4 linked regions of the Homo sapiens genome follow. The protein of the gene in region 1 purifies or fractionates together with the protein of each later gene. This does not show direct contact. Each region holds a gene or a part of one and is shown on either strand. Other genes may lie near its edges. The genes, in order: ASB8, AMBRA1, NPAT and CUL5.

What was found.
Region 2: the proteins of ASB8 (region 1) and AMBRA1 purify together in Homo sapiens (affinity purification with mass spectrometry; 4 studies listed by BioGRID and IntAct, with this or other methods). This does not show direct contact.
Region 3: the proteins of ASB8 (region 1) and NPAT purify together in Homo sapiens (affinity purification with mass spectrometry; 2 studies listed by BioGRID and IntAct, with this or other methods). This does not show direct contact.
Region 4: the proteins of ASB8 (region 1) and CUL5 purify together in Homo sapiens (affinity purification with mass spectrometry; 5 studies listed by BioGRID and IntAct, with this or other methods). This does not show direct contact.

What each region holds. Positions count from the first base shown.
Region 1 is NC_000012.12:48,154,506-48,161,620, forward strand, and holds the start of ASB8 (ankyrin repeat and SOCS box protein 8), read right to left. Parts: upstream 3,011-7,115; 5' UTR 2,954-3,010; intron 2,753-2,953; exon of another isoform or gene 2,617-2,752; intron 1-2,616. UniProt on the Homo sapiens protein: May be a substrate-recognition component of a SCF-like ECS (Elongin-Cullin-SOCS-box protein) E3 ubiquitin-protein ligase complex which mediates the ubiquitination and subsequent proteasomal degradation of target proteins.
Region 2 is NC_000011.10:46,395,900-46,402,038, reverse strand, and holds the end of AMBRA1 (activating molecule in BECN1-regulated autophagy protein 1), read left to right. Parts: intron 1-4,095; coding exon 4,096-4,589; 3' UTR 4,590-5,625; downstream 5,626-6,139. UniProt on the Homo sapiens protein: Substrate-recognition component of a DCX (DDB1-CUL4-X-box) E3 ubiquitin-protein ligase complex involved in cell cycle control and autophagy.
Region 3 is NC_000011.10:108,170,630-108,177,658, reverse strand, and holds part of NPAT (protein NPAT), read left to right. Parts: intron 1-568; coding exon 569-665; intron 666-1,284; coding exon 1,285-1,413; intron 1,414-3,807; coding exon 3,808-5,460; intron 5,461-7,029. UniProt on the Homo sapiens protein: Required for progression through the G1 and S phases of the cell cycle and for S phase entry. Activates transcription of the histone H2A, histone H2B, histone H3 and histone H4 genes in conjunction with MIZF.
Region 4 is NC_000011.10:108,067,891-108,074,919, forward strand, and holds part of CUL5 (cullin-5), read left to right. Parts: intron 1-2,205; coding exon 2,206-2,299; intron 2,300-4,441; coding exon 4,442-4,572; intron 4,573-5,499; coding exon 5,500-5,607; intron 5,608-5,909; coding exon of another isoform or gene 5,910-5,987; exon of another isoform or gene 5,988-6,176; intron 6,177-7,029. UniProt on the Homo sapiens protein: Core component of multiple cullin-5-RING E3 ubiquitin-protein ligase complexes (ECS complexes, also named CRL5 complexes), which mediate the ubiquitination and subsequent proteasomal degradation of target proteins.

The sequences.
Region 1 (7,115 bases):
TATTTGAGGTAGTATTCTAAAATAGGTAAGGAAAGCAAAAGTATAACTACCCTGGAGTCATTTATATAAAACTAGGAAAAAATTAAAATTCAGAATAATAAAATGTACTTTCAGTTTTAGGAAAATTTGCAGATTTTAAAATGAGTTAAAGGTGGGGCGTGGTGGCTCACACCTGTAATCCCAGCACTTTGGAAGGCTGAGGTGGGTGGATCACCTGAGGTCAGGAGTTCGAGACCAGCCTTACCAACATGGTGAAAGCCCATCTGTACTAAAAATACAAAAAAAATTAGCTGGGCATGGTGGCGCACGCCTGTAATTCCAGCTACTCGGGAGGCTGAGGCAGGAAAATAGCTTGAACCCAGGAGGCAGAGGTTGCAGTGAGCTGAGGCTGCACTACTGTACTCCAATCTTGGCAACAGAGTGAGACTCCATCTCAAAAAAATAAATAAAATGAGTGAAAATTTTTAATAATTGGCTATTCATGGCAACTGAGAAATAGATTTGGTGAAATATATGTTGAAACCACAATAGGACAGAGTTCTAGGATGGAAGAAGAAAATAATGCAATATACTTCAATTCAACTTAAAAGGCTTGGCTGTATAAGAGACAAGAGTTAGGGACCATTTAAAATTACAGCCAATAAGGTAGAACACTTCTATGAAACAGTACATATCAAAAACAATAGGGAAAATATAATACACAGTATCAGCTCTCTAGGTGCAACTGCTTAGAAATCTGTGTTCTTATTATAAGCTCTTTGGGAATAACGATACTGATTTTTTCAATAGTACCTGAACACATGGTAGGTTCTTAACATCTGTTGAACCAATGTAAAGTTTATTACTTTAGATCCTAAGAAATTCAAGACTTGAAATAAATAAGCACATTACCCATATGAAATTGTTTTGGTCATTTAATAATATATAATGTTTTGGCGGGGCGCGATGGCTCACGCCTGTAATCCCAGCACTTTGGGAGGCCGAGATGGGCGGATCACTTGAGGTCAGCAGTTCGAGACTAGCCTGGCCAACATGGTGAAACCCCGTCTCTACTGAAAATACAAAAAAATTAGCCAGGCATGGTGGCATGCACCACCCCTGGTAGTCCCAGCCACTTGGGAGGCTGAGGCAGGAGAATCGCTTGAACCTGGGAGGTGGCGGTTGCAGTGAGCTGAGATCGCGCCACTGCACTCCAGCCTAGATGACAGAGTGAGACTCCATCTCAAAAAAAAAAAAAATATATATATATATATGTATATATAGTCTTTTGCTTTATTTTTTTTTTTTTGAGGCGGAGTCTCACTCTGTCATCTAGGCTGGAGTGCAGTGGTGCGATCTCAGCTCACTGCAACCTCAGCCTCCCAGGCTCAAGCAATTCACGTTCCTCAGCCTCCTGAGTAGCTGGGATTTACAGGTGTGCACCATCACGCCCAGCTAATTTTTGTATGTTTAGTAGAGACAGGGTTTCACCATGTTGGCCAAACTGGTCTCAAACTCCTGACCTCAGGTCATCCACCTGCTTTGGCCTCCCAGAGTGCTGGGATTACAGACATGAGCCACCATGCCCGGCCTATTTTTGCTTTTTGTGATTGTGTATCCCTTTATATATTATATACTATAAATTCTGATAGTTTCTATTTTGTGAATCAGTAGCCATTTATAGTAGATGTAAATTCCATTAAAAGAATGCAAGTAAAAATATTCATATGTATCGATAATTCAAATTAGGTATTTTTCTCCCGTTATCATGCACGGATAAGCTGACACACTTGTTTATATGTCTCTATGACATTTTCTAGATAGTTTAGATTTGGCATGTGTTTTAATCTCTCCAGTAGCCACTAAACTGCTCTGAGACAAGTATCTGTATCTTATAATTTTTTTGTTTCAAGGAAAAAAAAAGACAAGTGCATTTGAGTTGGTAATTCCAAGAATGGCAGCAGAAGACAGAGCATCTAAAGCAGGAGGCTTGGACCAAAGTGGTTCTGTTGCCTGTAATCCCAGCACTTTGGGAGGCCAAGGCAGGAGGAACTCTTGAACCTGGAAGTTCAAGACCAGCCTGAGCAACATGGCGAGACGACCCCAAAACCCAATCGTCTCTACAAAAAAATTCAAAAATTAAAATAAATAAATAAAGTCGTTTTGTTAACCATTTCTGGGCCATGATAATCGGATGAAACTAAATCCTGAACTAATTTCCCGGGCGCTCTTGGGCTCTGGGCTAAGAACTCCTGAGAGTATGGTCAGTGGTCTGCTGCTGCCTGGAAGCTCCCGGTAAAGGAATGAAACTTCAGGGCAGACAGCATTCACTTCAGGAATGGTCAAGGAAAGCTAAATTCGATCTCACTAGACAGCAGCCCGTGTAAGGTTTGATCCCCTTGGAAGGCCCTTTCCTCTGCTAGAGCTGAAAGCCCTGTCTCCCTCGTTTTCTTTTGCTACGGGATCCAGAGAAAACACCAAAGGGCACTTACTGAGAAGCTGAAAAAAAAAAAAAAAAAAAGCAAACTGGAAAAGAGAAGACACAACAGCTCTGATGCGAGGGAGGCCTCGGCCCCGCCCCCTCCCGCCCCGGGAGAACCTTGGCCGAGCCTGCAGCGCCCGTAATCCCCACCGCACCTGCTGCGGGAGGGCCCGCGGCAGCTGTCTCGCTGAGGCTAGGGGGCGGGGGGCAAGGGCACGAAACGCAAGGACGTGCGGTGTCACTTTCTGCACGGGCTCTAAACAGATCGCAGCAATCCCGGTAGGTCCGGTACTGAAAGAGAATCACGCAATTTGCGCTGGGGGGCCTCAGACGCGGACCAACCCCCTCTTCGATCTGCCTTCTAAGGCCCGGAAATAAGTCTCAGCCTCGAGAACTAGAGCACTTCGACCAGGGAGTAGAGGAAGCGTTATTGGGCGTGGTACCCTGGGTTAGGAAACCTGGCTGTAGACCCACTCCAAGGACCGCACTCACCGAATTGCTGGGCTGAGGTGGGGGTTGAAAGCCGCTGTCAAGGCGTGACCCGGAAGCAGAAGCTGTCGGGGGCAGGCCCTCTGTTTACCGGACTAGAAGACCAACTAAGATGGGCGCCTGCGCACTGATGAGTGTTCGTCAGCGGGGCGCGCCTGCGCAGACTTGTGCAGCAGCTTTCGCCCTCCAGAGGCCTAGTTAGGGGGTTACTTTCTCCTTTTACTCAGAGGCTTTGCGCGCAGGCTCAGTGCAGCGTTCTCGGCCACAGCCGCAGGGTTCGGGTCTTGGTCCTGCAGCGGGGATAAAAAAGCTCAGGAACCCTGAGTGTTGGGCCGATTCTATATGGTTGCACCTGCGTGGACCAGGCCAGCAGGGGTCCATCCACAATGGTTCAGTTGCTTAGGAGACTAAACTCTTAGTAGGAAGTGTCTTTGACAAAAATACTTACAGCATTATTCATAATGGTGGAACGAATCTATGCTCCTTAGAACCCTCCTGTACATGTCCACCCTCCTTCAAGTAAACCATATCAAAGACAAACTCAACCACCCAAGAGGTGTAGTATTCTAAATGTAGAGGAATAAATGACCTTTATAACTCTTATTAGGGTTAATGAAACTTCCCGCACAAAAACATGATGACACCTCTGAGTGACAGACTTTCTGTGCAAAGCATAAACATTTTGAAGTCAGCAGCACATGGTGGTGGTGCATGGAAGGAGTGAAGCAGCAGCCCATTTAGGCAGACTGCAAGAGTTGTGGTCTGCCCGGTAGCCTGTTTAACCAGAGTGCCCCACACCTACTCCCCAGAGCTTGTTCTAAGCAACCAAATCTAACCAATTAGAGATTTAAAGCAGGCCCAGACAGATCATGTACATCAGTAAGAGGATGGTAAACTGAAAGTTCATGACCTGGTCTGAGGAGTGGGCCTCCTTTGAGCTCCAGACTCAAAGGAATTTTGCCAGGTAGGAATATGCCCTCCACTTCCTGCCACTGCACCATGGTGAGATCGTCCATTTTTCAAAAGAAGCTGAAATACAGATTTTTTTTAAAAAGTGAATTTTTCCAAGTTGCAAATGTTGGCAATGTTTTTATTATTATTATTATTATTATTATTATTATCATCATCATTATTTATTTTTGAGATGTAGTTTCGCTCTTCTCACCCAGGCTGGAGTGCAATGGCGTGATCTCGGCTGGCTGCAACCTCAGCCTTCCGGGTTCAAGTGATTCTCCTGCCTCAGCCTCCTGAGTAACTGAGACTACAGTCACCTGCCACCACACCTGGCTAATTTTTTTTTTGTATTTTTATTAGAGATGGGGTTTCACCATGTTGGCCAGGCTGGTCTCAAACTCCTGACCTCAGGTGATCCACCCTCCTCGGCCTCCCAAAGTGCTGGGATTACAGGCATGAGTCACCACACTGGACCACATCTCTCAAATTTCTTGGTTGGGAAATGCTGAAGTATATAAATTCTGGGAAACCATCAGCATCTTACAAATGTAAGAATGAGCGGAGTCTCCCAGGGAGTGATAAAATAGGCTCTCAATACAGGTTATTTTACTTATTTATTGAAAAACTGAGTACACTTTTATTTTACTTGGCCTGCAACTCAGTATATGCAGAAAACTACTCTATGTCACACTCATGATCAATATCTTCTTATTTCCATTTGGCATGTCATTGAAAACCTAGCCCATCACTTAGCTAAAAATCACATAAGAGACCCCTAGAGAAATCAAACTAACTTTTTTTCCCCCCAAACAATAGATCTCATCTTTATTAGTCAAATCAGTACCTGCTGATAGGGCAGTGGAGCAAGCCTGACAGTGATATTCATTAACAAAGAAGACAAAACTTATGCTTTCAAGTACAAAGATAAACTTTGAATGGCAGAGAGCCTAATCTGACTATCATCAGCCACCAAGAACACAGAAGAGCAAATAACTCAAGAAGAGAGAAGCCAAAGTGCTATAAAAATTATTCTTTTCTGTGAAATTCAGTTCCACAGCCTGTATGAGCAAGGGTCCAAAACACTGGAGAGCCAATAAAGCTGCTGGGAGGGCCCATTCATAATGGGAGATGCACTGGCTGTGCCTCCCTTGCTGTGTCCTTCCATGAGCGTCCTCCACTCTTCACTGACTTCATTTAGACTTGGTCCTCTGGTCTCACCACAGCTACCTGGGAGACTTTGAGTTGTAATCTTACAGTTTCAAGAGTCTATTTTGACTGAACCCAGGAGTAACATGCCAATCCAAAATAGAAACATTCTCATGGTACAATGGTGCAAAGGTCATTCTGTAGGTTGCATATATATAACATATATATATACACACAATATATATATTACATATGTACTATATATTACAGATATACTATATATATTACATATATATACACAATATATATATTTCTATGGAAGACAAAGCTTCCTTTTTTTTTTTTTTTTGAGATGAAGTCTCACTCTGTCACCCAGGCTGGAGTGCAGTGGCACGATCTCAGCTCACTGCAACCTCCACCCACCTCCCGGGTTCAAGCAATTCTCCTGCCTTGGCCTCCTGAGTAGCTGGGGTTACAGGCGGGCACCATCACACCTGGCTAATTTTTGTATTTTTAGTAGAGACAGGGTATCACCATGATGGCCAGGCTGGTGTCGAACTCCTGACCTCAGGTGTTCCACCCACTTCGGTCTCCAAAAGTGTTGGGATTACAGGCGTGAGCCACCGCGCCTGGCTGCTTCCTTCCTCTTTAACAAGAGAATATTGCACCCAGCATCACTGCTTTGGCTAGCTCTTTTTTCCTGTGTGCCCTCATGTGTGCAGCAATTGAACTGGCTAACAATTTCTGCATTCTTCCTGGTCTGGCCAAAATAATCTGGAAACTCACCATCTGGCCCAATCAAAGACATTGTTATTGTATGATTCACTAACATGGTCTTCATCTTCATCCTTGGGGCTAGAGCTGTAATATACTCTGTATGCTCTGGCCACGTGATTGATCTCTTCTTTCGTGCCAATCAGGCCAACCAGTTTGGGAGAAAATTCTTTCACATAATTTGCAATGGCCTTTTTTATGTCCCTCTCTGGGTCAATGGTGATGAAAAGTTAAATTTGGCAGAGTTGGAACACTATCTCACCCACAACTTGAATTATTTTTTTCTAGTTCTTCTGGACAGATATCAGTAATGACTGAAACCAGAATAAATCAACAGCCACTGACCCAGGTAGTCTTTGTCAGTTTCAGGCTCTCCAAATGTGTTGTGAGGGAAAATGGTCCCCCAGTAAAGGCTTGTTGATGCTTCACTGCTGTTCCTTCTCTAGCTTCTCTGTCTTTTCTATTTTGAATACTTCACTCCAGGCAGTAAACCTCCTCAGATAGCAAATGTGAATGCTAAAGACTTCCAAGAAATAGGCCTGGGCTTCAAGGGGCATGTGCAGTCTCTGCAGTCCTTCTGCTCAGGCCCTGACCACCTCAAGGGTGGTTGGTGGTATCACTGCCTGAGGGGCCAGCTTCCCAGGCAGCTATCAGCAAACCCCCAGTCCTGCCACACTTCCTCTTGCATGCAGAATTGCCTTGGCAACACTCTCACAGTCTACTTGGCTGGGCCCCAAAGCTCATGTCAGCCAGGCAAGAGACACCAAAGTTGGCCCATACTGATTACTTTGAAGTGCCTCAGAGAATTCAGTGCGCAACAAAAGTTGGTTTCGGATACATTCAATCATCCTTTCATCAAACATTTACTGAGCACCTACTTTATTCCAGGCTTTGTGCTCAACTCTCCAGGGAAGACAGAAATGAAGACAGACAGTCTCTTATTATCAAGGGTTGGGAGACAGATATGAACATCCTCAACTGCAATTAATGATGATTATTTCAACAACATTGTTATGTCCAAAGTCAGTGTTGACAAACAGTTCTACCTCATGGTGAGATCAAGAGAGTGAAGGAAGGAAGGGTCTGTGAAGAGACTTCTTGGGGAGAAATTTGTATGTGCTGAGTCCCTACTCTCCTCCTACCCAGAGGGAAAGGAAGTACTGATGTTGCCTAAAGAGGGGCTTCTGTGGGACCAGAGAACTTGAAGATTGTTCCCCATAGTTGTAAAACAAAAACTGCACCAGTGCTTACTTATAAATTAAAGAGGGCTGTAGCCACAAAGTAGAGGTGG
Region 2 (6,139 bases), on another chromosome or scaffold:
GCACAGTGTGCACAGTGTATGCCCATCTGTGCAGGCAGGGAGCAGGGCTGCCGGGTACCTGCAGGAATGTGGGGGACAGGGCAGGAAGGTCTGCAGCATGATAAGGGTCTGGCCAGAGAGCCCTCAAATGTCAAGCTAAGGAGTTTTGACTACTGTGAGGGCTTTTGCAGCTGCTGGGTTTTGAACAGGGTGCAGACTTAACCAGAGCTCAAGTCAGCAGAGCTGAATTAGGATGGTAATAGGAACAGTGTGGAGACTAGACGGAAGGGGAGGAGACTGGAAGCAAGAAGCCCAGTTAGGACACAGTCATAGCCATAGAGAGGGGTGGCCAGGCCTGGAGCCATAGGCAAGCAAGCAGTGGGCTCAGACTTGAGTGCCAGCAGCAGGGCCTCCCGCAGAGCCTGGGAAAGCCCATCCGGGGCTCTCTGGGGGCTTGGCTGCAGCAGCACCCATAGGGCCCCAAGGCAGCCTGTTCTGCCCCTGGTAATCTACTTGAGAAGAGCTGAGCTGGGTGCGGTGGCTCATGCCTCCCAGAACTTTGGGAGGTCCAAGTGGGTGGATCACAAGGTCAGGAGTCTGATACCAGCCTGGCCAGCATGATGAAACACTGTCTCTACTAAAAATACAAAAATTAGCTGGGTATGGTGGCACATGCCTGTAGTCCCAGCTACTCGGGAGGCTGAGGCAGGAGAATTGCATGAACCCGGGAAGTGGAGGTTGCAGTGAGCTGAGATCATGTCACTGCACTCCAGTCTGGGCGACAGAGCGAGACTCTGTCTCGAAAAGAGCTGAGAATTCACTAGGCACAGCGCCTGGCACAGTGCACTCCAATGCCAGCAGGCCTCAGGCCAGCCACAGCACGCCCCAGACCATGCTGCGAGGGCTTCAGTGCACAGAGTTCTGAGAAAGCATTGGGGCTACAGTGAGCACAGGGAGGGCCCCAGGGGACCTCCCCAGGCAGCCCTTGGCTCCCAGGGTAGAATCTCTGTGGGCACCAAGGCCGTAGGTTGACTTTTTTCTTCTTACCTTCTGCCCCACTGTTAGAAGGCTTTAAAACCTGAAGATGGGGTTGACCCAGTACTCTGAGAGCCCTTCAGGTTTTCTCTCCTTCTGCCCTGGGAGCTGGAGCCGGGTGTCCCAGGAGGAAGTGGGGAAGGGCAGCCACCTTGAGGGATGGAGGGCAGTGCTTTATCAGGGGTTGTCCAGAAAAGCAAGAGAGGACATAATGCTGAGGAAGATCGTCTAAGACTGGGGCTGGGCGCAGTGACTCACCCATGTAATCCCAGCATTTTGGGAGGCCAAGGCAGGAGGATTGCTTGAGCCCAGGAGTTCAAGACCAGCCTGGGCAACACGGCGAAACCGTCTCTGCAAAAAGTACAAAAAATTAGCCAGGAGTGGTGCTTGCCTGTACTCCCTACTACTCAGGAGGCTGAGGTGGGTGGATCACTTGCACCCAAGAGGCTAAGCTACAGTGAGCCATGTTTGTACCATTGCACTCCAGTTTAGGTGACATAGCGAGACCTGGTCTCAAAAAAAAAAAAAAAAAAAAAAAAAAAAAAAAAAAACTATAGAAAGAACTAGAAGCATGAGGCTGCCAAGTACCAACAAGAAGGGTGAGAGATCTCTTGGGGCCTTAGATGCCACCAAGCTGTGAAACTGGCTGGCCTGGAAATCCAACTCTAATGAGGCAGGCAGAGAGAAGGGGATGGATGGGGTTAGGGGAGCAAAGAAAGTCTCATAAAAATAGCTGCTGGCAAGTACCCCAAAAGGAAAGAAAACTCACCATCAAAACCCCCAAAACTGCAAAATTCCAAACAGTAGCTGATGGAGACAAATCAGCAGTTCAGTGGAGCCATCCCTCGCAGCCTCAGAGCCTTGATCATAGTTGCCCACGGTCTTGGCCTGGTTCTCACCCTACCAAGAGCTGAGCAGAAAGCTGGAAGGGAGGTCCCACAGCAATAGAGCTCCACTGCTGCAGACCCCAAGTTAATCACAACAGGCACCGTTGACCAAGTGCCTGGGCTGTGCGTTAGCTCCTTTTCTCTCTCCAGCACCGTGCAAGGTAGATGTTAGGGATTTTTTTCAAGGTCACCCAGCAAGCAAGTGACAGCTGAGATTTGAGCCGAAGTCTTTTCTGTTCCCACACAAGGGAATGCTCAGGCATTTCTGCAGAGGGAGTGGCGGACAGATCCTTCTCTCCCTCCCTAGACCTGGGTCCTGTGCTGGTCAGTTGACTCTTTTCCGGGAAATATGGCATCAGGCATTGAGCCCCAGGAGAACAATAACTGGGGAATAGCTTGTGAAGACTGGGGGGTAAAGGGAAAGAAGAGAAGGAAACAGCCCTTCCAAGGAACAGTTAAAACTCTCAGCTTCTGACCAGGCACGGTGGCTCACGCCTGTAATCCCAACACTTTGGGAGGCCTAGGTGGGCGGATCGCCTGAAGTCAGGAGGTCGAGAGCAGCCTGGCCAACATGGTGGAACCCCATCTCTACTAAAAATACAAAAAATTAGCCAGGTGTGGTGGGAGCCTGTAATCCCAGCTACTCAGGAGGCTGAGGCAGGAGAATCGCTTGAACCTGGGAGGTGGAGGTTGCAGTGAGCCAAGATTGTGCCACTGCACTTCAGCCTGAGTGACAAGAGCAAAACTCCATCTCAAAAAACAAAGGCTGGGCACGGTGGCTCATGCCTATAATCCCAGCCTTTTGGGAGGCTGAGGCAGGCAGATTACCTGAGGTCAGGAGTTCGAGACTGGCCTGGCTAACATGGTGAAACCCCGTCTCTACTAAAAATACAAAAATTAGCTGGGTGTGGTGGCGGGCACCTGTAATCCCAGCTACTCGGAGGCTGAGGCGGAAGAATGGCTTGAACCCAGGAAGTGGAGGTTGCAGTGAGCTGAGATCGCATCATTGCACTCCAGCCTGGGCGACTAGAACAAAACTCCATTTCAAAAAAATAAATAAATATGGCCAGGCGTGGTGGCTCACGCCTGTAATCCTAGCACTTTGGGAGGCCGAGGAGGGTGGATCACCTGAGGTCAGGAGCTCGAAACCAGCCTGGCCAACATGGGGAAACACCATCTCTACTAAAAATACAAAAATGAGCCAGGTATGATGGTGCATGCCTGTAATCCCAGCTACTTGGGAGGCTGAGGCAGGATAATTGCTTGAACCCGGGAGGCGGAGGTTGCAGTGAGCCAAGATCACACCACTGCACTCCAGCTTGGGTGACAGAGCAAGACTCTGTCTCAAAAATAAATAAAATAGGCCAGGCGCAGTGGCTCACACCTGTAATCCCAACACTTTGGGAGGCTGAGGTGGGCAGATCACGAGATCAGGAGATCAAGAACATCCTGGTTAACATGGTGAAACCCTGTCTCTACTAAAAATATAAAATTAGCTGGGTGTGGTGGCGGGCACCTGTAGTTACTCAGGAGGCCGAGGCAGGAGAATGGTGTGAACCCAGGAGGTAGAGCTTGCAGTGAGCTGAGATCGCACCACTGCACTCCAGCCTGGGTGAAAGAGTGAGACTCCATCAATCAATCAATCAATATAAAAATAACTCTCAGCTTCCTCAGGGGCTTTGAGGAGGTAACACAAAACTACGCTGAAGGAAGACAGCATTGTAATGAAGCAGAGCAGACTGTTTCCCTTTGGGCCACACCCATAGGGTACCTACTCTCTTTGCAGAGAAAGGGTGGCATACCCCAGCTCAGCCCTAGGTCTGCTGAGTTTCCACAACAGGGAGCAGGCAGACAAAACCAGCTGTCTGAACCTGCCTTCTCGCATGCTAAGCTGCCACTGGTGCTGAGAGAACTCATTGAGGCCAACCTGCTGCCTTCTGGGCCAGTGCTGCCTCTTAACTGGCCATCCTAGGCCTCAGTTTCCCCACCAGTAAAACAGAAGTATGGATTGTGAACATTTTGGGGGTTTTGTCTAGCTTTCAAGACTCGGATTGGTTTTCACAGTGATGGAGCGAGTCTTTCTCTATCCTGCGTTTAGTCAAGAATCCCCCAGCTGCTACCGGTGGCTGCCCACCTGCCTCAGAGGCCCAGGCCAGCAGCCAATTCGCTCTCTCTTCTGCTTTGTATCTGCCAGGTGAGGGTTCAGAGTATGGTGCCAGTGGAGAAGATGCGCTCAGCAGGATCCAGAGGCTGATGGCGGAGGGCGGCATGACAGCCGTGGTGCAGCGGGAGCAGAGCACCACCATGGCCTCCATGGGCGGCTTCGGCAACAACATCATCGTCAGCCACCGCATTCACCGCAGCTCTCAGACGGGCACTGAACCTGGTGCCGCCCACACCTCCTCACCCCAGCCCTCCACCTCTCGGGGACTGCTCCCAGAGGCCGGGCAACTGGCAGAGCGAGGCCTAAGCCCCCGGACAGCTTCCTGGGACCAGCCTGGTACCCCTGGGCGGGAGCCAACCCAGCCAACCCTGCCCTCTTCCTCCCCTGTCCCCATTCCTGTTTCCCTTCCCAGCGCTGAGGGACCAACCCTCCACTGCGAGTTGACCAATAACAACCACCTTCTGGATGGTGGCAGCAGCAGGGGGGACGCTGCAGGCCCTAGGGGAGAACCACGGAACAGGTAGAGACAAACGTTGCACTGGTGCCTCCCCTCGAACCGCCAAGCAGAAACCGGACCTCACAGCTGACTGGGAACTGGACATGTGGAAGAGCTGCTGGCTGCATCAGGGAACAGGAGGAGGAAGAGGGTCAGGGTGGAGAGGAAGATCAGTCAGTGGGCACAAGACAGTCAAATGGGCAAGGCCTGCCTCGGGGAACTAGAACCTTCCAGGATCTGGAGCCCGGGAGAGCCACACTGTGGGCTTAATGTGAATAGAGGAACAAGTGGGTATCTCTGCCAGGCACCCCACTTTCTCCTAGTAACATGGGCTCAGGGGACTCAGCCCTGGACAGAGAGCCTCCAGAGAGTGAACAGTCTTCCAGATCTGGGCCAATCATCCTGGACAGAGGCCCGCGAGGCAGCTTTGCCCTGTCCACCTGTTGGGTGGGCAGAGCCACCAGGAACCCAGACACCACCTCCAACTCTGAGCCTTCCAGAGCTTCAGCCTCTCTTCGTCGTCTTACCCCACTGAAACCAACAGGGATCGGGCCAGGCTCCCAGATTCTTGAGGACAGGGACTTCGGCATTTACTAATGGGGGACTACTGTGGGGTAAGGGGGCGCCTGCTTGCCTGATACAGGATGGGGTCAAGGGACAGTGGGCAGGTCCTCACTCAGGAGTGGGGGGTGTAGGCTGGCCAGCCCCCAGGGCTTGTCCACCAGTCTTCTCCCCGCAAGGCCCTCAGAGCAGCGCCTGTGGGTGTCAGTATTACCTGAGCCTAGGCCAAAGCTAGCCCAAGGCTGGGGAAGGGGAGGAGACTCCAGGTCAGAATGTGAGGTCTCAGTCTGTGATTTAAGGTGTTGCATGTGGACTCTTAACTGTACGTGTAGTTTCTAGTGGAGAAATCAAGGCTCTGATCATTTTGTTTTTAGTATGAAAATGTGATTTCCTTTCTGTTTGTAACTCATCATAGAAACATTGTGGTGGGAGGAGAGGGGATAGTCTACAGCTAATGAGGGAAACACCAAAGATCACATCATTAAAATGATGACATGCCCCTCGCCAGGCTCCTCTCTCTTATTTCCAAGGAGGATGGGGGAGGGGTGGGGATTGGGAAGTGAGGGGCATTGAACTGGGCCAGGCCCAGGTTCTCCCGGCACTGTTTCTGGTGCTCTCCTAGTGGGGTGCAGTGGACCCCTCTGACCCCTTCGCCAGAGCTGGTCAGGTGAGGGCTGCCACCTCTGCTTCATACCACTTCTCTGTACGCCACCACTTCCTGCTTCCCCAGGGCCTGCTACAGACTGGGGCCACCTTCCAGTGCCAGGGTGAGTATGTAGGAAGGAACGACAGAAGGCTATTCATCCTAATAGCTTCCCACCCAGGACTACAGGCCTGAAGTGATGTAACTGGCCAGAAACCTGGATCCCCTCCAGTCCTGGGAAAGCACGCACAGCAGGTGTCCAGCCTGCTAGGCAGGTGGAGGGGCTTGGTCCTATCTGCAGGCAAGGTGCCAGTTGCTAGCTGCTCAGGTCTCCCTTGACTGTGTCTTCCCTACAGTGGCCGAAAGGCCTGCTC
Region 3 (7,029 bases), on another chromosome or scaffold:
AATGTTTAGGAATATATTCACCAAAGTTCTTACCTCTAAGAAGTAGGATTAGGAAACACCTATCTAGTTTTGTTTTAATTTGTTTTAAATGAGCATGTCATTGGAAATTTTCTTGGAGTGGGGGAATGCTACTACATAAAAAGTCAGAAATAGTCGAGTGTCTGCTAATTATTTTGCTGGTATTAAATCATATTATTCACGCTGAGTACAGTGGCCCACATCTATAATCCCAGTGCTCTGGGAGGCTGAGGCAAGAAGATCACTTGAGCCCAAGAGTTCTGGACTACCCTGGGCAAGGTAGCAACCCCATCTCTATCAAAAATAATAATAATAATAAAATAAGCTGGGCATAGTGGTGCACTTGTAGTCCCAGCTACTCAAGAGGCTGAGGCAGGAGCATCAGTTGAGCCCAGGAATTTCAGGTTATAGTGAGCTACAGTGACTCTACCACTGTACCACTACACTCCAGCCTGAGCAAAAGAGTGAGACCCTGTCTTATATATATATAATATGTAAATATATATAAATTCAGTTAGAATCATGCCTTCACGCCACTCCTTTCTTGCAGAGTGAAATTCACATGTCTGAAGAAGCTATACAGGACATATTGGAACAGACAGAATCAGACCCAGCATTTCAGGCACTCTTTGATCTCTTTGACTATGGTAAGGAGACTATTTATTTCAAGACAGAAAAAAAAGGCTTCTACAATTTCTTTGGTAACTTAACCAGAGTGAATCAACATTCCCCAGAGTATCTAAAAAAGTTCTTGTTTTCATTTCATCAAACATTATATGGATATGTTAAAGGAGTGTTTGTTGTTTTGTTTTTAGCTGAGAAACTTTAGCTGTTAAAGTGGAGAGTAGTTTTGTTTTTTATTTTTGTGGCATTTTTGCCAGTCATCAGGGAATGTGTTGATGTCTACCACTATACAAATGTGTTAAACACAATTGAATCGTACAAAGGGAATACAAAAAATTGGCCATTGTCCTCAATCTTATGATTTAGTGCAGTAGTTCTCAAAGTATAGTCCCCCAAACCAACAATCTCAGCATTATCTGAGAACTCGTTAGAAAATGCAAATTACTGGGCTAAAGTTTAAGAAACACCTGTCTAGTGGGAAAATCTTTGTACTTGTAAATGATATTAAAAGCAACATTTTTTAAACATCCATAAAACCCTAAATCGAAGTTTAACATTTGCGTAATCACCAACAAGCTGTATTCATTGATGTTTATTTTTTGTTTTGGTCATTTAATTATTTCCATATTCCCTTTTTAACAGGCAAAACAAAGAATAATAAAAATATATCACAAAGTATTTCCAGTCAACCTATGGAATCCAATCCCAGTATAGTCTTAGCAGATGAAACTAATCTAGCAGTTAAAGGTTCTTTTGAAACAGAAGAATCTGGTAAGAATTTAATTTTGTTAATATCATCAATCCAAATCTTAATATTAGTCTCAAAATTCAAAGGCAGAAAATATTAATTTGGAAGTAGAAGTTGTTCAGATTGTTATAGGTCATTTTTGTATTTTTCTCTCTGTTAAAAACAATTATAAATCTTTGGTAGTTTGATTAAAAGAAAATTTACAGTATTCATTCTTTTACTATAAGCTTTTTTTGTTGGTGTGTGTTTGTTTTTTGAGACAAGGTCTCCCTCTTGTCATCCAGGCTGGAGTGCAGTGGCACAATCATAGCTCACTGCATGCAGCCTCAAACGATGCTCCCAGCACTTTGGGAAGCAGAGGTAGCATTACAGGTGTGAGCCACCACACTCAACCTCATTCCTTTATAATTCAATTCTTGACATGTACAATTTAGTATTAATGTTGTTCAGTTGCTCAAAAGTCTGTAACATTTATTTTTATTAAGGCACATGTTTTTTGTGCACCTGTTTTTAAATGTTATCACCTGCTCCCACCAGTAAAAAATCTGATGGCTTCCAGTGTTCATTCACATCCTGTCCTTGGAGAATCTCAGACTGTGTGCCTCCTTTAATTCCTCTGCCAACAATCAAGTCCAATTCTCCATTTCTTCTTAGGCTGAATTATAGTGGGTTGTGTTTTTTGCAGTATATATTATGTCTAGAAGATTGTGTTTCACTTAAGTTCTTCCCTGTACAAAGTGAAACTTGAAATTCCGTTTTCTGAGAAAGTCATCCTACTTCACTGAGGAACTACTTATCCTGAATTTATGTGGCCTCTATACAATTTCTACTGTTTTCCCCACAATAAGGATTCAGATGTGCTCTGTACTCAGCAGCAAGTGTCACATTTAACAGAATTAGAGTAGTCCCCCCTTATCTATGGGGGATATATTCCAAGCCCCCCAGTGGGTGCCTGAAATTGGGTGGTACCAAAGCCTATATAGTATTTACTGTTTTTTCCTTTTCAGGCATACCTATGGTAAAGTTTAATTTAAAGTTAGGCACAGTAAGAAATTAACAATAGCTAATAATAAAATGGGACAGTTATAACAATATACTGTAATAAAAGTTATGTGAATGTAGTCTTCCTCAAAATATCTTATTGTACTGTACTCACCTATTTTTAGGCTGGTTGACTGTAGGTAACTGAAACCACAGAAAGCAAAACTACAGATAATGGGAGACTGCTGTATATGCTAGTTGACATAAATGTTCTGGTTTTTAAAAAATATTTTTCATACTGATTCAAGTTAATGTTTTCTGTCCTAAATTGTGAATGCTGTATTGTTGTTTTCTGAAACACTTTTTCCAGGCCAGGCACAGTGGCTTATGCCTGTAATCCCAGCAATTTGGGAGGCCAGGGAGGGCAGATTACTTGAGGTCAGGAGTTCAGGACCAGCCTAGCCAACACGGTGAAACCGCGCCTCTACTAAAAATACAAAAGCTAGCCAGGTGTGGTGGCTGGCGCGCACCTGTGATCCCAGATACTCAAGAGGCTGAGGCAGGAGAATCACATGAACCCGGGAGGCAGAGGCTGCAGTGAGCTGAGAATCGCACCGCTGCACTCCAGCCTGGGCGACAGAGCAAGACTCTGTCTCAAAAAAAAAAAAAAAAGGAAATACTCTTTCCTTACTCATATCATACTCTTTTTTTTTTTTTTTTTTTAAGATCTTCTCATACAGTGCCTCCTTTATAATTTTTTCTCATGGTACCTTTTGTTCCTATGCTGTTACAGTTTTTACCATGCTTTCTTATGACTTTCTGTTCTATAGTTGGTTCCTTGACTAACCTCTCCAAGATTAGAGATTGGATCATTCATCTTTGTATCCCAGTAACCAAGTATGGTTGGTCTTCAGTAAATATGTGTTTAATGTTAAACAGTACACAATGAGATCAAGTGTCAATCATGCAAAATGTACTTGGCCCCATCTCACCTTTAAGAATATGTCAGATAAGTTGGGTGTGGTGGCTCATGCCTGTGATCCCAGCACTTTGGGAGGCCGAGACAGTAGATAAATTAAAGTCAGAAGAAATGTTAGAAGTTGAAAAGTTAGTGTTTCAAAATAAACTTCATTTTTGGAGCCAGTATGTTTTTTACCTATTGAAATATTAAACCTCTTTACTTTTTCCTTCTTTGTATCATCTGTCTTCCAAGCTTGGAAAACAAATTGACACTTGTGTAAAAAGTCATCAGTAACTAGAAAGTACCTGTAAATTTTTTGATACTCAGTAAATGGGAAACACAGCGTATCAGACTTCCACTTACTGGTATGCAAAGATGAGTTATTTTCTTGGCAAAATAAGTTTTATGGCAAAAATGACTACCTCAGAAGCTGAACATATTTACCATATCTGTCTACCTGCCTGATACTTTGCAGATGGTCAGTCTGGTCAGCCCGCTTTTTGTACATCCTATCAGAATGATGACCCATTAAATGCTTTGAAGAATAGCAACAACCATGATGTGCTTAGACAAGAAGACCAGGAAAATTTTTCCCAAATAAGTACCAGCATACAGAAAAAGGCCTTTAAAACAGCTGTACCCACTGAACAGAAGTGTGACATTGACATTACCTTTGAGTCCGTGCCTAATTTGAATGACTTTAACCAAAGAGGGAATTCTAATGCTGAATGTAATCCACATTGTGCTGAATTATACACCAATCAGATGTCCACTGAAACTGAAATGGCTATAGGGATTGAAAAGAACTCTTTGTCTTCAAATGTACCGAGTGAATCTCAGTTACAGCCTGATCAGCCTGATATACCAATAACTTCATTTGTTTCACTTGGTTGTGAAGCTAACAATGAAAACTTAATTCTCTCTGGGAAGAGTTCTCAACTTTTATCCCAAGATACTTCATTAACTGGAAAGCCATCTAAAAAAAGTCAATTTTGTGAAAATTCTAATGATACAGTAAAACTTAAAATTAATTTTCATGGTTCCAAGTCATCAGATTCTAGTGAAGTTCACAAGAGTAAAATAGAAATTAATGTGTTAGAACCAGTTATGTCACAGCTATCAAATTGCCAAGATAATTCTTGTCTTCAAAGTGAAATACTACCTGTGTCTGTTGAAAGTTCACATTTAAATGTATCTGGACAAGTAGAAATTCATCTTGGAGATTCGCTGTCTTCTACTAAACAACCATCTAATGATTCAGCATCTGTTGAGTTAAATCATACAGAAAATGAAGCTCAGGCATCCAAGTCTGAGAATTCACAGGAGCCTTCATCTTCTGTAAAAGAAGAGAATACTATTTTTCTCTCTTTAGGTGGAAATGCTAACTGTGAGAAAGTTGCACTGACGCCTCCAGAAGGCACTCCTGTAGAAAACAGTCACTCTCTTCCTCCAGAATCTGTGTGTTCTTCAGTGGGAGATTCTCACCCTGAGTCCCAAAATACTGATGATAAACCTTCTAGCAACAACTCAGCAGAGATAGATGCATCAAATATCGTCTCTCTCAAAGTTATCATTAGTGATGATCCATTTGTTTCCTCAGATACTGAACTTACCAGTGCTGTTTCTAGTATTAATGGAGAAAACCTGCCAACTATAATCTTGTCTTCTCCTACTAAATCACCTACTAAAAATGCAGAACTAGTTAAATGCCTATCTTCAGAAGAAACTGTAGGTGCTGTTGTATATGCCGAAGTAGGGGATTCAGCCTCAATGGAACAGAGTCTTTTAACATTCAAATCTGAAGACTCTGCAGTAAACAATACTCAGAATGAAGATGGCATTGCTTTTTCAGCTAATGTTACACCATGTGTTTCCAAGGATGGAGGATATATACAGTTGATGCCAGCCACAAGCACAGCTTTTGGCAATTCAAATAACATTCTGATAGCTACCTGTGTGACTGATCCAACAGCGTTAGGAACATCTGTAAGTCAGTCTAATGTAGTGGTGTTGCCTGGAAATTCTGCACCTATGACTGCTCAACCTCTACCACCTCAGTTACAGACACCACCAAGGTCAAACAGTGTATTTGCTGTCAACCAAGCTGTGTCACCAAACTTTTCACAAGGTAACTTTAATAACATAATTGAAATTTGTTTCTCTGGGTTGGGATCTAATTTCTTTTGTATGTGATGTTATTGACTGCGAAGTAATAACTAATGAGTAGATGGTATGAGAAAAGATTCTGAAATTTGTGATTACGCTGCTTCTTTATGCTAGCTAATTCAAACCTTTTTTATTTTTCTTAATCTGCTAGTAAGCTATGGGCTTTAGTGGTTTTTCTTTTTTCTTTTCACAAATACTTCTCAATCTATGTGCTAGTAAGTTACAATAAACAGAAAAGACAGACTAATTCATCACATAGTTGTATAAAACCCAATGTTGTGGGGGAGTTTTTAAAAATAGCTCTTATAGTCATGGTCTTCAGGGAATTCATCATCTTTTTGGAGAAATTTTCAAGAAAAACTTGAATTTCAGCCGGTTATGGTGGCTCACGCCTGTAATCCCAGCACTTTGGGAGGCCGAGGTGGGCCGATCGATCACCTGAGGTCAGGAGTTTGAGACCAGCCTCGAGAACATGGTGAAACCTCATTTCTACTAAAAATACAAAAAAATGAGCCAGGCATGGTGGCAGGTGCCTGTAATTACAGCTACTTGGGAGGCTGAGGCAGGAGAATCTCGTGAACCCAGGAGACAGAGGTTTCAGTGAGCCAAGATCATGCCATTGCACTTCAGCCTGGGCAACAAGAGCGAGACTCTGTCTCAAAAAAAAAAAAAAACTTGAATTTCTTCCTTTATAAAATCCTTTCTAATTGATCTCTGTCTTTAAAATCCTTTGTTTATGGCTGGGCTCAGTGGCTCATGACTGTAATCCCAGCACTTTGGGAGGCCGAGGCGGGCAGATCACCCGAGGTCAGGAGTTCAAGACCAGCCTGGCCAACATGGTGAAACCCCGTATCTACTAAAAATACAAAAATTGGCATGGTGGTGGGCACCTGTAATCCCAGCTGCTTGGGAGGCTGAGACAGAAGAATCTAAAGCTGGGAGGCAGAGGTTGCAGTGAGCCAAGATCGCACCACTGCACTTCAGCCTGGGTGACAGAGTAAGACTCTGTCTCCAAAAAAAAAAAAAAAAAAAAAAATCCTTTTTTCATAGGGGCTCTTGTGGCATTTATTGCGTGCTGTGTTATATGTAGTTAGTGATTGATATGCCTATCATATTGATAATTTTTTATTGTATGTTCCTCAGAGATAGTGCTCATGGCACATTTATTTACATTTCCTTATGTGTTGGTTCCCAAGCTTCCCTCTTTTCCCTTTTTGTTACATTATAGACATACAATAAAATTTCATTAAATATCAACAATTAGTATTAAACCTAATGGGTCTGTTTTACGTGCTGTTACAAATTACATAAAGGAGAGGTCAGAATTAATAGAGAATGTGGGGCTTGAGCTAAAGCTTAAAGAATGAAGGTAGGATTTGGAGTTAAAGCAAGGAAGTTTTTATAACTTATAAAATCTGTAAGTTATAAAGAGAAGCAGCACCAGCATAGACAGAGAGACCGTAGTAGGTTGCATGAAAATGAGGGGATCAACCTGACAGTAGTGTATTAGGCAAAAGTTTGTTTATGGACA
Region 4 (7,029 bases), on another chromosome or scaffold:
TAACCATTTTATATGTGTAGTCTTTTCTTTATTTTTCTTTTTTTTTTCCTTTTTTGAGACGGAGTTTTGCTCTTGTTGCCCAGGCTGGAGTGCAATGGCACGATCTCGGCTCACTGCAATCTCTGCCTCCCAGGTTTAAGCAATTCTCCTGCCTCAGCCTCCCGAGTAGCTGGGATTACAGGCACCCACCATGCCCGGCTAATTTTTAGTAGAGATGGGGTTTCTCTGTGTTGGTCAGGCTGGTCTTGAACTCCTGACCTCAGGTGATCCGCCCGCCTTAGCCTCCCAAAGTGCTGGGATTATAGGCTATGAGCCACCACGCCCAGCCATGTGTATTATTTTCTTAGGACAGAAATATACATGGATATATGCATTTAAAAGTCATCAGCATCATTCTTGTAGAGGAGCCTGAAAAAACCTTTTTTTTTGTTTTGTTTTGTTTTGTTTTGTGACAGTCTTGCTCTGTCGCCCAGACTACACTGCAGTGACATGATCAAGGCTTACTGCAGCCTTGACCTCCTGAGCTTAACTGACCCTCCCACCTCAGCCCCCCAACTCGCAGGGACCACAGAAAATTCTTTATTCGGAAAATTTTAAGCATTTTTACAATGTAGGAAGAACAGTATAATGAATCCCCATTACCTAAATTCAGCTTTAGTAGTTACCAACATTATGTCAATTCCAAAGGAATTTTTAATAAAAAATTTTTAAGGGACACATAATTGCCTCCCTTAATTTACAGATAGATGATTTGTTTTTCAGAAGAAATATATCAGCCTTATTGTACTTAACTTTAGTCCTCACAACCTATTAATTTCATCTGATCCCCAAAAGAGAAGTAAATAATTACATGACACGAGGGAGCAGAGATGACATGATATCTTCTGCCTCATTTAGATTTTCCTGATGGCCTCCTAGAGCACTAGACCCTTGCTATCTTACCTGAAATAGTTCAACAGCCTCGTTACCATATCCCAACCACCCACTCCTTACCACCTGCCTTACTACCATTATACTGATCTTTAATAATGACTTGAGGAGAGGAGAATCTCATTACATTTATCCTCTGTTTAAAACTTCCTTGGGGCCAGGCCTGATGGTTCACACCTGTAATCCCACACTTTGGGAGACTGACAGGGGGATCATGTGAGACCAGGAGTTTGTGACCAGCCTGGGGAACATAGCAAGACATCATCTCTACAGAAAAGTTTAAAAAATTAACCAGACTTGATAGTACATCCCTGTAGTCCTAGCTACTCAAGAGGCTGAGGCAGGAGGATCACTTGAGCCTAGGAGTTCAAGGCTGTAGTGAGGTATGATAGTAGCTATGTAGTAATGCCACTGTACTCCAGCTTGGGCAGCAGAGCAAGACTCTGTCTCTTAAACAAACAAAAAAACCTTCCTTTGTTCTTCCTTCCCTACCTATGAAATAAAACCCCAAATCATAGATTTTCATTCATAATCTGGTTGCAGCCTATCTTTCTAGCCTTCTCTTCCACTGTCTGTTTCTTCTCTACCATTTTAAGCTTCCTGGTATTCCTAGAATACGTAACCTATTTTAGGGCTTGTACTTACTTTACAGGATCCCATTTAGATACCAACTTGTGGATGAGGCCATTTTAACTACCCTAGAAAAAAGTAGTTTCTAAGTTTTTTTTTATTTTGTGTGTGTTTGTGTATGTGTGTGATGCCACTTAACTGAGTTATATTTAGTTAGCAGTGTAGGTTTACTGCCCTCCTCACTCTCAATTAGACAGTGATCTCTTCGAGAGCAGGAATTATATCTTATTCTTGTCTCTTAAATACTTCCTTAGTGCCTGCACGTAGTAGGCATCCAATAATGGTTTGTTGAATGAATGTATTCACACTTCTAGAATTTTATAACCTAATTTTAAAACAGGTTCTCTCCAGACAGGAAGAGTTAATCAAAGTTTGGTTTTGTATATTTTTCTCTCCCCTCCTTGAGGACTTTTGTTAAAATTTCTAAAGAGAGTCTAGTTCTATAGTTTTTTTCCTTAGGGGAAAATACACTTTGGTAAACTAGTATAGCATATCCATCTTCAATAATCCTATAGTTAAGGTAAGTGAAATCTACTTTCAGTATAATTTTTTTTTTGTTGAACAATATTGTTTTATTTTGTGAGTTAGAATAGATTTGTGCTATACAGCTTATAGTAGCCTTGACTAATTTTTGATATATTTCAGCTCATGGAATGCTGTGTAAATGCCCTGGTGACATCATTTAAAGAGACTATCTTAGCTGAGTGCCAAGGCATGATCAAGAGAAATGAAACTGAAAGTAGGTAAAACATCACATAAAGTTATCATAATCTTCTAAGAGGGTATCTTTGAAACAAATCACTTACTAAGTTGCTCTTAGTTAATTCTTTTCCACATAGGTATATGTGGAACTGTTAGAGTGAACTATACTTAAGGAAATAGATAAAATATTTAACACAGAGGCACTGCTAAGAGTATATAAACTTAAATTTTAAGCATTTTCCCTCTTAGCTATCAACATCTGTGTATGTGTATGGTGAATTTCTACTTTTTTCTCAAAAGCAAGACACTGCTTTTAAAGGCCAGTTTAAACTGGAAACATATGTTATAGATTAGAACCAGGTATTTGACTTTTGTGTGGAACCTTGTGATGAATCTTTTTAGAATGTAATAAAACACTCCCTGTTAATAGTCATCTCTGTCCCCCAAAATACTTTATAAGATTTCTAAAGGATTTTTTTATTACTTCAATGTTTTCTTAAAAAGATGTGTTTTGAGAGGTAGCAAGTATATAACAAACTAAAAAAAAAAATTGTACATATACCTACTACCCCAGTAAAACTGCTTTTAACATTTTTTTGCTTTTGTTTTTTAAATAACGTACTTCTACTGAGTTTCCAGGTTTTATTATATCTAACTGCAAGGTCCTGTTTAATCTCTAGTTGCATTTAAAGTGCATATTTCAATTCACTTAAGTTCATACACTTTTTAGGAGTAATTCAGTAGTAAAAAGCAAGCTGCTTTATTGGCGTAAACAAAATACTTGTATTCTGTGTGCCAGTCTAATTAGAGTTATGTCTGATCTATGTTGCACTCTTTTCAAAAGGATTTATTTAGTGGTAATCAGTACCGTGAGGTAGGGTTTTTGTGAAGGTCAATAAAATGGCATAACATGAAAAAGTGCTTTGTAAATTGAAAAATTATTTATGAATACAGTTTTATATTCTAATCTCTAATATAGTTGCTTTCGTAATTATTACTCATGTTTTTTACCTTTTGATGATATGGCTGTATATGTAGTATTACAACTACCTTATGAAATAAACTAATCTTGTGTGTAAATAAATATTCCTTTGCACTGAAAACCAAATGACTCACCTTTTCTTTTGAGACTGGGTCTCGCTGTGTTGCCCAACCTGGAATTCGATGGCACGATCACAATTCACTGTAGCCTTGACCTCCTGGGCTCAAGCGATCCTCCCACCTCCCAGCCCACTGAGTAGCTGGGACTACAGCCGTGTACCACCATGCCTGGCTAATTTTTGTATTTTTTGTAGAGGCAGAGCCCCACCTTGTTGCCCAGGCTGATCTCCACTGCTTCTGGCCAAATGACTGACCTTTTAAAGAAAGGAGTTGGGTTTTGCAGTATTTGATCACTTTTTTTATTTTTATTTTTTGAGACCGTCTTGCCCTGTCACCCAGGCTGAGTGCAATGGTGCAATCACGGCTCACTGCAGCCTCAGCCTCCTGGGCTTAGGCATTCCTCACACTTCAGCCTCCCAAGTATCTGGGACCAAAGACATGCACCACCACACCCAGCTAATTTTGTTTGTTTGTTTTTGTGTAACGATGGGTTTTGCCATGTTGCCCTGACTGGTCTTTTTAACTCCTGGGCTCAAATGATCCTCCCACCTTGGCCTCCCAAAGTGCTGGAGTTACAAGCGTGAACCACCACACCCAGCCTGATCACTTTTAATTCGATTTTTTTTTAAACATAATTTTTAGACTAAGTACAGTGGCTCATACCTATGATCCCAGCACTTTGAGAGACCAAGGCGAGAGGATTGTGTGAGCCCCGAAGTTTGAGACCAGCTTGGGCAACATTGGGAGACCCTGTCTCTACAAAATTACAAAAAACATTAGCCAGGCATGGTGACATGTGCCTGTGGTCCCAGCTACTCAGGAGGCTGAGATGGGAGGATTGCTTGCGCCCAAGAGGTCAAGGCTGCAGTGAGCCGTGATCGAGCCACTGTACTCCAGCTTGGGTGACAGACTGGGACCCTGTCTCAAAAACAAAAAAACAACAACAAAAAAACGAACAACTACTCCTAATGGCATTGTATCCACAGAATACTATTAACATTACAAACTTAACTAATGTTTCTCTAAACTCTTACTCTAGTAAATGAAATGATTACATGAATGTGTTCTCTCCTTCCAGAATTACATTTAATGTTTTCATTGATGGACAAAGTTCCTAATGGTATAGAGCCAATGTTGAAAGACTTGGAGGAACATATCATTAGTGCTGGCCTGGCAGATATGGTAGCAGCTGCTGAAACTATTACTACTGTAAGTTTTTTTTCAATGGCAATGATAGATATATATCAAGGCTATTTTTTAAATGTAGGATTATTGAAAATAGTGAGCGGTTACCAGAGGCTGGGGGTTGGGGGAGCAGAAGAGGTTGGTTAGTGGGGTATAAAGTTATAGTTCAATAGGAAGAATAAGTTTTGGTGTTCTATTACCCATTAGGGCGGATATAGCAAGTAACAATGTAGTGTATATTTCAAGATAGAAGAGATTTTTTATGTTGTTACCACAAAGAAATTATAAATGTTTGAAGTGATGGATATAGTAGTTACCCCAATTTGATCATTATAGTATATACATGCATTGAAATATAACATTGTACCCCATAATATGTACCATTATGTGTTGATTACAAATAAAAACATTAAATTTTTAAAAATACAGAATTGAAAATTGAAAATAGTAATTGAAATTACTATTTTCTCTGTAAAACAGGGAGCTGGGCAAGGTGGCTCACGCCTGTAATCCCAGCACTTTGGGAGGCCGAGGTGGGCAGATCACAAGGTCAGGAGATCGAGACTATCCTGGCTAACATGGTGAAACCCCTCTCTACTAAAAATACAAAAAAAATAGCCAGGCGGGGTGGCGGGCGCCTATAGTCCCAGCTACTTGGGAGGGTGAGGCAGGAGAATGGCGTGAACCCAGGAAGTGGAGCTTGCAGTGAGCCGAGAAGGTGCCACTGCACTCCAGCCTGGGCGACAGATCGAGACTCCGTCTCAAAAAAAAAAAAAGGAAGAAAGAAAAAAGAAGTGGCAAAACAGTAATATTGGAACACCTTTTAGTTTTATTTTTAAGAAAAAATATCCCCAGTTTTAAATGAGTTTTATTAAAATTATGTTTATTTTCTCATTTTTTTGTGTTATTCTTTTTCTTTTAAAAACTTAATGTAAAACCTTTTGTTTCTAGGACTCTGAGAAATACGTTGAGCAGTTACTTACACTATTTAATAGATTTAGTAAACTCGTCAAAGAAGCTTTTCAAGATGATCCACGATTTCTTACTGCAAGAGATAAGGTATATATTCCTATATATATAAAAAACACTTTTAAAAGTTTTATTCTCATAATTTACTTCTAATAATCAATTTGCATTATTTTTCTATTAATTATAAACTTAAAAACCTAGCAACTGTTATTTTTCATCAGTGGAGAACAACTATATTCGTTTTGTCTTGGCTGTAAGCATTTGTTAAACATTAGATAGCCTTGTGAATTAGAATTTAGTTAGAAAGTTGCTTTTTTCTCATTTTTCCAAGAATGTTTTTCTGTTTTTGAATATTACTGATCTATTGAATTCCTATTCATCCTTCCATTAAGACCCAGCTCAAAGAATACTTCCCCTGGAGCTTCCTTGATGTCCTGCCTCCCTCCACAGCTCATCACCAGCAGAGTTGATTCCTCCATCCTCCGTCCTTTCATGGGACTCCTTCGGGAGTTATGTTATACTTATCCTTGTTTCCCAGGGAAGCATTTGTATTGCATACCATCTTTTTCCATCCTCACTAGTATAGGATAATGATAATAAAACACCATACTGTCCTTAGCATTGTATCTTTTTTAGTGTAATAAACCTATAACAAGAAATTGCTGTTAGTTTTTTCTCTTCTTTGACTACCTTTCGTTACTTCCCAAGTTTGAATGATTCTAAAAAGACAACTTTCTCCATTCTCCAGTAGGATTTTTTTCTCACTCTTTTTGTCTATTTTAATTTTTTTTTTTTTTTTTTTTTGAGACTGAGTTTCGCTCTTGTTGCCCAGGCTTGAGTGCAATGGCATGATCTTGGCTCACTGCAACTTCTGCCTCCCAGGTTCAAGCGATTCTCCTGCCTCAGCCTCTCGAGTAGCTGGGATTACAGGGACCAACCACCATGCCCGGCTAATTTTTGTATTTTTACTACAGACGGGGTTTCACTGTGTTGGCCAGGCTGGTCTCGAACTCCTGACCTCAGGTGATGGGCCCGCCTCGGCCTCCCAAAGTGCTGGGATTACAGGCCTGAGCTACTGTGCCCAGACTCTTTTTGTCTATTTTAAAACAAGTAAATAGGCCAGGTGCAGTGGCTCACGCCTGTAACCAGCACTTTGGGAGGCCAGGGCGGGTGGATCACCTGAGGTCGGGAGTTCGAGATCAGCCTGATCAACATGGAGAAACCCCATCTCTACTAAAAATACGAAAAATTAGCTGGACGTGGTGGTACATGCGTGTAATTCCAGCTACTTAGGAGACTGAGGCAGGAGAATTGCTTGAACCCAGGAGGTGGAGGTTGTGGTGAGCTGAGATCGTGCCATTGCACTCCAGCCTGGGCAACAAGAGCGAAACTCTGTCTCAAAAAATAAATAAATAAAAATAAAACAAATAAGTAGGTAAAGTAGGAAAGGAGTTAAGGGAGTATAGACATGGTGGGCGTGGTGTGAAGTCTTAAATTGAGTAGCCTGCAAAG